2 linked regions of the Homo sapiens genome follow. The protein of the gene in region 2 purifies or fractionates together with the protein of the main gene of each other region. This does not show direct contact. Each region holds a gene or a part of one and is shown on either strand. Other genes may lie near its edges.

What was found.
Region 1: the proteins of MYBL2 (region 2) and FOXM1 purify together in Homo sapiens (affinity purification with western blotting; 3 studies listed by BioGRID and IntAct, with this or other methods). This does not show direct contact.

Annotation. Positions count from the first base shown.
Region 1 is NC_000012.12:2,857,162-2,860,448, forward strand, and holds the end of FOXM1 (forkhead box protein M1), read right to left. Parts: intron 2,631-3,287; exon of another isoform or gene 2,503-2,630; coding exon 1,477-2,502; 3' UTR 519-1,476; downstream 1-518. UniProt on the Homo sapiens protein: Transcription factor regulating the expression of cell cycle genes essential for DNA replication and mitosis. Plays a role in the control of cell proliferation. Also plays a role in DNA break repair, participating in the DNA damage checkpoint response.
Region 2 is NC_000020.11:43,705,039-43,712,330, reverse strand, and holds part of MYBL2 (myb-related protein B), read right to left. Parts: intron 7,113-7,292; coding exon 6,973-7,112; intron 2,369-6,972; coding exon 2,269-2,368; intron 844-2,268; coding exon 730-843; intron 1-729. UniProt on the Homo sapiens protein: Transcription factor involved in the regulation of cell survival, proliferation, and differentiation. Transactivates the expression of the CLU gene.

The sequences.
Region 1 (3,287 bases), on a different chromosome or scaffold from region 2:
CCTCTTGTGACCCTTGGGCCCCTGGCTACTTTTCAGGTTAGACAGGCAGGGGATAGCACTTTCTTCAAGTTCTGACTGCAAAAAACTGTAACAGGAGCTGCTGCCGGGCAGAAGAAAAGCAGGGCAGGCTGGCTCCCAGGCCTCAGGGTGGGGATGGCAGTGGGAATGAAGCACCTGTAACTGGGCCCTTCCTGCCCTAATGTTCAGGGGGCCCTACCCCTCGTGAGCTTGTCTTATTAAGAACCCTCAAAAGGCCTAAGTTAACCAGCAGGTCCAAAGGTCCCAAGGAACAAGGTCAGAGACGCCAGGGAAAAGAGGTGAGCTGTGCAGGACTAGCACTGGGAAAACTGGCAATTTGTGTTGTCAAGTGTGTGCCTGTGCAAGTGCTCCAACTGCTGCTTTGGGTGAACTTCAGGCCTTGCCTCTTCCCTATCACCATCGTCTCCATCAACACCCTCTTTCTTTTCCAGCCTCTCCTGGTGCCTTAGGAATCAGACGCCAATAAACCACAGAGCCCAGCATGTCCACCTTCGCTTTTATTGAGTAGTTAGTGTTCTCAAGCTGGCTCACACCCATGCGGTCAGCTGGGGCCTAGGGTGGCTCTTTGCAAAGCTGAGGGGCAAGCTAAGGAAGCCAGGCAGGTCAGGGGCCCTTTCGGCCTTCTCAAGCCTCCACCTGAGTTCTCGTCAATGCCAGTCTCCCTGGTATGATTGGGGACATTATCAGAGAAACATCTAATAGCGCACATCTGGGCACCCACACTCTGCTTCAGTTGCATCCATCCTCCCACCCCAAATTCAACTCCTGACCCAATACAAAAGACTTTTTTAACCAGGATTTCTTCTTGCAGGAAAGCTGACTTGGAAACACGGGGAGGTGGCAGGGAGGGGCAAAAAGGACTCTGGCAAGCAGATCCACTTGTCTGGGTCCCTGCAGTGAAGAACCCAAGATCCAGGTACCTCAGCCTGGAAGAAACCGTGCACTGCAGGTCTTCCCTTCTATCAAAACTAAAAGCAAGGAACAGAAGTCAATTGAAACCCCAGGTCATCCTACCCACCTTCTGGCAGTCTCTGGATAATGATCTAAGGAAATAAGCTTACATTTATAATTAGAGGATAATTTGGAGAATTTATACTATTTACACGGACCACCCTGCAAAGATCAGGGAAGGTAAGAGACTGCTGGGCAGAGAATGGAAACAGGCTGGGGGGTTCCTAATCTCTTTTCACCATTGCCTTTGTTGTTCCCACCCTTCAGCTCCTGGCAGGGACAGCAGAGGAATCAGATACTCTTGGGGAACACAAGGTCCCAGCAGTGGCTAGGGTGTGACTGCTACTTTTGCATAATCAGGCAGCAGGGAGCTATGAGGAGCAGAACAGTCCCTGCCTGCTGTCCTCACTCAGAGGCTTGGGGTGCACTGAGCCTTGGAGTGCCCGGGATGGTGGACAGCTTGAGCACAGGGGCAAGGGCAGGGCTCTACTGTAGCTCAGGAATAAACTGGGACCAGTTGATGTTGTCAGGGCCCAGTGGGTCCTCGTCCAGGCCAGGAAAGCTGATGTCCAGCAGGATCTTGCTGAGGCTGTCATTCATTGTGTCCAGGACCAGGCCTTCTGTCAGAGAACGATTGGCTGCAAGGCCAGAAACCTGTGGCTCCGGGGAGCCTGGCTTGGGGACGTCTATATCTGAGGGAGAAGAGTTGCCAAAGGGGACGGAGATGAGGTCTAAGGGTTCTGAACTGAGGAGCCTTTGCGGTGATTCAAGGGGGGGAGCACTTTGCAAGGGAGTGGTGCTGAGATCCATCAGCCCCAGGGGGTCAGGCAAGGGGTCAGAGGCACCCTGGGAGGTTTGTACTGGGCTGAAATCCAGTCCCCCTACTTTGGCTGGGGGCGTGAGCCTCCAGGATTCAGGGGTTCTGGGGAGGACAGATTTGCTCGGGGTGGAGGAGATGGGCAGCGTTTCCTTAATGGGTGTCTTAAAAGGTCCTCCCACTTCCTGGGAGTAGCTGAGCTGGGAGGCAGGGTCAGAGGAGTCTGCTGGGAACGGGAGCTCTGCGGCCCAGCGGGAAGTACTGGGCCCCTCTGAGAAGAGCAGCTCCGGCTCATCCACACAGGGAGGCAGTAGATGCTGTTTTCTCCGAGACCGGCTCCTCTCCCTCCTCTCCCTGTGTTGAATCACAAGCATTTCCGAGACACACCGGGTTGGGGACCTAAGCCCACTGTAGGACTTCTTGGGTCTTGGGGTGGGAGATTGGGACGAATCCTCCCAGGAGTGAGATGATTCCTCTTTGAAAGATGGGGCCGGGGAGGGCCACTCTTCCAAGGGAGGGCTCTCCACTTTGATGGGTCTCGCTAAGTGTGGCATTTCCTCCCCAGGCTGGATTTCTTCCTCCTTGATAGTCTGAACTGGAAGCAAAGGAGAAAACCCTTCTCCAAACAGGAGTTTCTCCTCTTTCCCTGGTCCTGCAGAAGAAAGAGGAGCTATCCCCTCCTCAGCTAGCAGCACCTGAAAGGGAAACAGAGATAAGGTGAACCAACGGTCACCAGACAGGACGCACAAAAATATCACATACGGGTTCTGATCCTCTTTGTGTCGTTTTGAAGTCTTAAAATCTATTAAATATGAGAATACGATGTATGTTGAAGTTGGTAGTTCAATTCTGGGGGTAAAAGATGCGGGTATGTAGTATGTAGTGGCATAATTATAATAGCATTCATCCGAGAGGAAATAAAATTGCATGCTTGTCTTACACTGTATACAAAGATTTAATGCATGAAAATAAGAACCTTAGGCTGCTCTGATGGTAGCGGGTAGTGACATTATTGTCACTAAAGTTGGTACACAACCCCCAACTGCTAAATTTGACTGGCTTTAAAAAAAAAATGAAAACCTTAAAATCATACAAATCCTGAAAGAGAATCTAGGAGACTACATATACAATCTGAGGGTGCGGGTGACCTTCTTAACCAAGACTGGAAACCCAGAAACTGTAAAAGAGAAGAGAGACATTTGACTACATAAAACTTTAAAATTTTACTGTGGCAAGAGATACCATAAACAAAGTTAAGAAACAACAAACAATGCCTGTAATCCCAGCACTGCAAGACACTGAGGCCAGTTTGAGACCAGCCTGAGCAACATAGTGAGATCCCATCTCTACAAAAAAATTTTTTTTAATTAGCTGGATGTGGTGGCATGCACCTGTAGTTCCAGCTACAGGTGGGAGGCTGAGGTGGGAAGATCACTTGAGCCTGGGAGGTCAAGGATGTAGTGAGCCTTCATTACACCAC
Region 2 (7,292 bases):
GCCCACCTCCCCTCCTTACCTAACACCCTGTACATCCCACCGTTCCCAGCTCTCCCTTGAGGAGAGCAGTCTGGGAAAAAGGAGCACTAGGAGACTCGAAGGGATCGCGCACTGTCATGAAAGCTAACGACGCAGTGGGAGGGAGGCTGGCATAGAACGGAGGCTTGGGACAGTCCCTTCCCTGCCCCCCTGCCCAGGAGCCCCTGCAGACTCCACCTCACCTGAACCCACTCCCCCACCCCCAGCTCATGCAGCTTGACACTCAGCCAGGCACTGCCTGGCCTGGCTGGCTCATCCCGACCGCCTCGCCTCCACCCAAAAGATTCCTTTGGAACCTCCCTTTCTGCGGCCCTTGGTACCCTGTGAATTCAGTCATGGTGTGTCTGTCTAGCATCTGTCTCTGCCCCCTGAACACTAAGGGGAGATCCAGTCTGGGTCGTAATTGCTGCTCCATCCACCACATCCAGCCCAGCCCAACTTGAGCAGGGTCCGAACACAATGCTGGATAAGTAAGTGAATCCTTCAAAGCAGAGCAGAGGAGGGTCCCAGAGACACTGTCCTTATCTTGTCAGTTTCCTCAACAACCACCGTGCGAAAGGGGGCAAAGGGGATATGCTACGCCCCCATTCTCCCCAGCGCCTCACTTTCTACAACCTGTCCCCAGACGCCTCCCCCATGCCACGGCTCCAATTCCCCCTGCCCAGGCTCTCCCACCCCTACCCTACTCACCCCAGGCTTCCTCTTCTGCTTCTCGGGCCTGATGTCGTCCTCGATGATGAGTTCGATGCCAGCCTCAGAACGCAGCACCTCCTTCAAGTCCTCCTCCAGGTGCGGGGTCTGTGGCTGTGGGTAGGCACGGGGCAGCCCACGTGAGGCACCACACTCGGGCTGTGTGTGTGTGGGACTGTGGGACCAACCCAGCTGCAACTGGGCTGTCCTGGGTAAGGCAGGAAGGAGGCCTGACGCCAGGATGCAGATCTCACACGCACCATTCACAACCACTAACTGCTGCCTTGGACAAGCAGCTGATGACCTTGATTCCCAGGGGCCTGCCATGGCTGGGAGCAGCCCAGAGACGCACTGTAACCCTCACACAGCCCTGTGCAGTAACCGTCATTTTAAGCAGGTAGAAACAGAAGCTCAGAGATCAACAGCCTGGCACACAGTCACACAGCTGCTGAATTAGGACCCCGACAGCTCAAAGCCCAGGCTCACTCAACCCTTTGTTCCACACTAATGGGGGCTCTCAAACCCATTTCCCTTTCTCAGGCCTCGGGGTTCCAAGGACCTCTCCAGCTTCAGGCAACAGAGAACAGGGGAGGGCGAGTGCTACTAAGAGTGAAAGGTGCGAATCACAGCCACTCCTCATAAGTCATCCGAAAAGCCCCCACAAACTTTAATTACAGCTGCCAAGGTCATGTGATTTGCCCTCACACCTGTTTGGAGAGCATGCAGATATTTTAGTACAGAGGAGCCAAATCTCCACTGCAACAGGAAAGGAGCACTAACTAGTGCCTCACCTCGGCTCATGTAGCATGGTCCGTGGAAAGTCTGCTTGACTCAGAATCAGTTCCATGGCAGGCCCAAGGGAGCCTCAGCCCCCAGCCACCTTGGGCTTCATAGGAGGCTCCATGCAGTGGAGAGAGACAGCAGGGGGACCCGCTGCAGACCTTGTTCACAGTCCAGTGCCTCCACAACCATGCCTTTCTCTCACCCTCCACTGATTTCTAAAACACCTGTGTGTTTCAGAAAGCCCAAGGTGCCAACTCCTTTTTTCATAGAGAAAACACAACCATCCCATCAACTGGGAAGAGCAGGGGAGAAGGGCAGCCTGCACACTGCAGGAAAGACGTCCCCGAGGGGCTTTCCCGTGCTCTGTAGAGAACTGGGAGTTGGTCAGAGACAGGCCAGAGTAGCAATTTGCCACTTCTCTGAACTAGGCCCAGTGCTTATCTTTGCCTGAAAGTGTTTAAGTTATTTGTATTTCACATCAGTCTCCCCCATCCTGAGGCTGAGTGTCACGGGATACCACCATGTCTCTAGCACCAGCCGGCGCGTGCTTGCAAACTCAGGTGCTCAGGAGCAGTCGGAGGAAGTGACAAAGAGCAGCCTCAGCTTCCCCATTTATATTATCAGGATCTCTGCATCTTCTCAGGAGAAAGAATCAAATGAGACCTCAGAGGGAAGGGTCCTGTGGACTGAACATGGTTGGATGAACCGAAGGGATCCCACTGTGCAGAGATCCACGGCAGCGACCACACCACGTACCAGGGGCTTCAGGGGTCCGTACTTCTCCAGGGCGTTCTTGAACGGGGTTGGCGTGTGGGGAGTGTTGTCCATGGAGTACTTCTGATCTGGGGTTACAAACCTGCCAGGGGCCAGAACGGGGGAACTAGTGACAGGATAGGGGCCGACGCCAGGCACTCTGCTGCCCTGGCTCCACCTTCCCCCAGTGCGACCTTTGGCCCCAGCACAGGTTCTCGTCCCATCCCTCTCCCCACCCTGCAGGTCCAAGTCAGGGGCTCGGGGGAAACAGAAGGGAGAGGGGAGTCTAAGAGGGGCCAGGAGCCCCAGACAGGTGGCAGATAGCCGAGAATGCTGCTCAGTCATGGTCCAGACTTGGGACTTTCCAGAAAACAAGGCAGTCCGTGGCCACACTTCAGGAACAGTGAGAGGGGGCACGGAGCAAGGTGGGAACCCAGGAAGATCCCATCCTGCCCAGCTCTCCCTGGAGAGCCTGTGTGAGAAGGATGGTGGCAGCACAATGAGGGAAAGGAGGGGCGAGAGGTGAGGCCAGCATCTTCCCAGGTCTCCCAAGAGTTCACCGAGGTGATGGACACGTGGAGGGAACCCTTCAGCAGAACAGAGAAAAACCCAGGATGGTCTGGTCCAGAAGCAGAACTATAAGATGCTTCTATCAGATGTAGACCCACCATGGGTGATTTCCACCTGCCCTAGAGCAGGGGGGCAGAAAAGGCACCTCACGCCCCAGAGCGCCAGGGCTGGTGGTATGGGGCTGGGCCAGGCTGGCTGTGGGCAAATGTCAGCTCTGAAGGAAGCTACCAGGTTCCACAAACACGAACCCTTGTGTGCTGGTATGTGACCTTAGTCACCTGGAGATACCACCATGGCTGACTCTCATGGCATAACCAGGGCACTCAGAGGATGAGAGAAACACCCCAGGTAGCCAGGGACCTGGGTGATGAGGCCAACTCCTAGAAACAGCAGCCTGGGGCCTCGCCGCCTCCACTTCCCGCAGCTGGCCAGCCACTCCATGGGGAGATAAAAAACTAGAACAAATGCAGACCATTCTTTTCTTCCTTCCTCAGGACCTAGAGATTAGGCAGGGATCCACAGTCTCTTCCCAAACCCTTGTTATCCCCCATCTGGGACACACAGAGATCCCCCTCTGTAAGGAAGAGTGAAGACAGATAAGCACAAGTCAAATGTACACATCTTACAGTTCAAACCACAATTCACAGAGGTGAATCTGAGCCACTCAAGCATCTCCATGGGACATGGAGTTTCTGAGGAACATGAGAAAATTCCAGAACCTCTCTAATTCGTGGCATCAACAAGGACTAAGAGCACACACATGGCCAAAGGCAGTGGTTCACGCCTGTAATCCTAACACTCTGGGATTAGTGTTAGGCTGACAGGAGAGGATCACTTGAGGCCAGGAGTTAAAGAACAGTCTGGGTAACACAGACTCCATCACTACTAAAAATAAAAAAATCAGCCAGCCATGGTGGTGCTTGTAGTCCCAACTACTCCAGAGGCTATGGTAGGAGGACCACTTGAGCCCAGAATTCAAGGCTGCAGTGAGCCATGATTGCACCACTGCACTCCAACCCGGGTGACTAAGAGAGACCTTGTCTCGGAAAAAAGAAAAAAAAGAGTGTATATACACACATTAGAAAACTCAGGGAGAGGCCGGGCCTTGTGGCTCACCCCTGTAATGCCAGCACTTTAGGAGGCTGAGGCGGAAGGATTGCTTGAGTCCCAGAGTTCAAGACTAGCCTGGGCAACACAGTGAGACCCTGTCTCTCAAAAAAACAAAAAAATTAGCCAAGCATGGTGGTGCACACCTGTGTTCTCAGCTAGTTAGAAGGCTGAGGTGGGAGGATCACTTGATCCTGGGAGGTAGAAGTTGCAGTGGGCCATGATCACACCACTGTATTCAACCTTGGGGACAGAGCAAGACTGTCTCAAAAAGAAAACTCAGGGAGGCAGGGAGGCTGACTTGAAAAGGGAATTCAAAAGATTGCTTGGAGATAAAAAATGCAGCTCTGTAAATCAGAGAATTCAGCAAGTTGGAAACCACAGACAACCAAACTGGTGAATCAGAAAACAATCCCATCATGTTCTCCGAAGATTAAGGAAATGGCTTAAGATGGTGAAGAGGCGTATGAAGACGAAAAAGACACAGAGACCAATCCAGCCTATATATGAAGGAATTCCTAAGGTAGGAGAAGGGGCAGACAGGGAAAGAAAAACTAAAGAAATAAACACTTCCTCAGCTCAAGGTTTGAATCTTTAGTCTGATATGAAAGCCGGGGGGGAAAAAAATAGAGAAATACCACACCACCATACAGCCTGTCAAATTTGAGGGATAACTAAAGAGACTCTCTACAAAGGAATAACAGCTGGATTACAGCTCACGCCTGTAATCCCAGCACTTTGGGAGGCCGAGGCAGGCCATTTGAGTCAGGAGTTCGAGACCAGCCTGGCCAATATGGCGAAACCCCATCTCTACAAAAAAATAGAAAAATTAGCAAAAAAATATAAAAATTAGAACTCATCACCAGCAAGCCCACACTACATGGTTAAAGGATGGCCTTCAGAAGGAACCAGATGGAAATATGGATCTAAAGAGGAATGAAGAGCACTGGAGATGCTTCTTCCTATGGAAAAAAGGAATTGGAAGGAGGCAGCAAATGAGGCCACATGGATAAGAAAGAAAGGGAGAGAGAGAAGTATCAATGCCTTTTGTAGTGACAGCATCTCTGTTTAAGGGCTTAGATGCGAAGTCCAAGATTCTGGTTTGAACGGACAATCATTTCTCACGAAACCTATCTAAGTTATGCTTTAGATCAACTCTTTAGAGACTGATTTCTTTTTTCTCTTTTTTTTTTAAAAAAAAAAAAAACTAGAAAGAGAGTCACGCTTTGTCACCTAGGCTGGAGTGCAGTAGCCAATCATAGCTCACTGCAGCTTCAAACTCCTGGGCTCAAGCAATCCTCCCACTTCAGCCTCCCGAGTAGCTGGGACTACAGGCACACACGGCCACGCCCAGCTAATTAAAAAAATTTTTTTTGGCTGGGAGCAGTGGCTCACACATATAATCCCAGCACTTTGGGAAGCCGAGGCGAGTGGATCACAAGGTCAGGAGTTTGAGACCAGCCTGACCAACACGGTGAAACCTCGTTTCTACTAAAAATACAAAAATTAGCTGGGTGTGGTGGCGCGTGCCTGTAATCCCAGCTACTCAGGAGGCTGAGGCAGGAGAACTGCTTGAACCCGGGAGGCGGAGGTTGCAGTGAGCCGAGATTGCACCACTGCACTCCAGCCTGGGTGATAAAGCAAGACTCCATCTCAAAAAAAAAAAAAACTTTTTTTTTTTTTGTGTACAGACAGGGTCTCCCTATATTGCCCAGACTGGTCTTAAACCCCTAGTCTCAAGTGATCCTCCCACCTTGGCCTCCCAAGCGCTGGGATTACAAGTGTGAGCCACTGAGCCGGACTTTGGAGACTGATTTCTGACTAAGGGATTCACAAATCTTTTCCCGAAATTATGTATCACTATCAGGGCTAAAATTCCTGAGCTGATTTCTGAATCACAAAATAGCGATTTCCTCCTCCAGCAAATGTATCAAGCAGAGGAATAGTTAAGCAACTCTCTCTACCTGGAATTTAGAATCATGATGACCCAAGGAAGTAAACTTATTGTAAAAGCACTTCCATTGTAAAAGCAGGCTGGCGAGCAACCTGTACAGGCTTCCAGACAGAAAATGTCATGCTCCGTAAGCTCAGAGGACAGGAATGCAGTCTCCACTCTTGATAGAGGGATGGGCACTTTCGCCCTGCACATAAGGCTGCTCAAACACAACGAATTTGCACCTGAAACCTTAGGAAGCGGAAGAGATTATGTTTTTCAGGCTAATTTGGACTCTCCATTCCTGAGACAGAAAATTATCAAATGAGGGCCAGGTGCAGTAGCTCACGCCTGTAATCCCAGCGTTTTGGGAGGCTGTGGCAGGAAGATCACTTTAAGGCCAGTTCAAGACCAGCCCAGATAAAGTAGCAAGACCTCACCTCTTAAAAAAATTTTAGCCGGGTGTGGTGGCTCACGCCTGTAATCCCAGCATTTTGGGAGGCTGAGGCAGGAGGATCACGAGGTCAGGAGATCGACACCATCCTGGCTAATACGGTGAAATCCTGTCTCTACTAAAAATACAAAAAATTAGCTGAGCGCGGTGGCGGATGCCTGTAGTCCTAGCTACTCGGGAGGCTGAGGCAGGAGAATGGCATGAACCTGGGAGGCGGAGCTTGCAGTGAGCCAAGATCGCGCCATTGCACTCCAGCCTGGGCAACAGAGCAAGACTCCATCTCAAAATAAATAAATAAATAAATAAATAAATAAATAAATAAATAAATATTTTTTTAATTAGCTGAGCATGGTGGCATGCACCTGGAGTCCCAGCTACTCAGGAGGCTGAGGCAGGAGGATCACAAAAAAGGAAACTATCAAATTAAAAAATACAAATGAGGAAAAGCAAAGGTGGAGCCCAAAACTATATCGATAAAAATGATAAATCGTGGTGGCCAGAAAGGAGAGGGCTTTCTTAAAACAGTCTTCAGTGTTATTCCAAGGGTGCCCCCTCCCCACTGTTCCACCAGTGGTCCCAAGGCCCATGGTCTGGTGTTGCTGAGGGAGAGGACGGCGAAGGTTGGGGGCACTGCAGCACTCACGCAGCATGTTTCTGGTGCAGGGGTGTCTTGTCCCGGTGCAGTGGTGTGGTGACCACCACCTTCTGGCTGCACACTGGGGTGGATGTCAGCGAGGGGCTCTCCAGCTCCAATGTGTCCTGTTTGTTCCAGAAGTTCAGAAACTGCCAAAGAAGAGAGAGGGAACAAGACAAAATGATGACCTGCATGAGTATCCCTGAGACCTCAGGGGATCATGGGGAGAGATCCTTGAGCCTCTCCCCCAAAACGTCTGCTCTGATACTGAGGTCCCCTCTTGACCCATCAGACACCCGAGAACAAGGACTGGGACAGATCGATGCCAG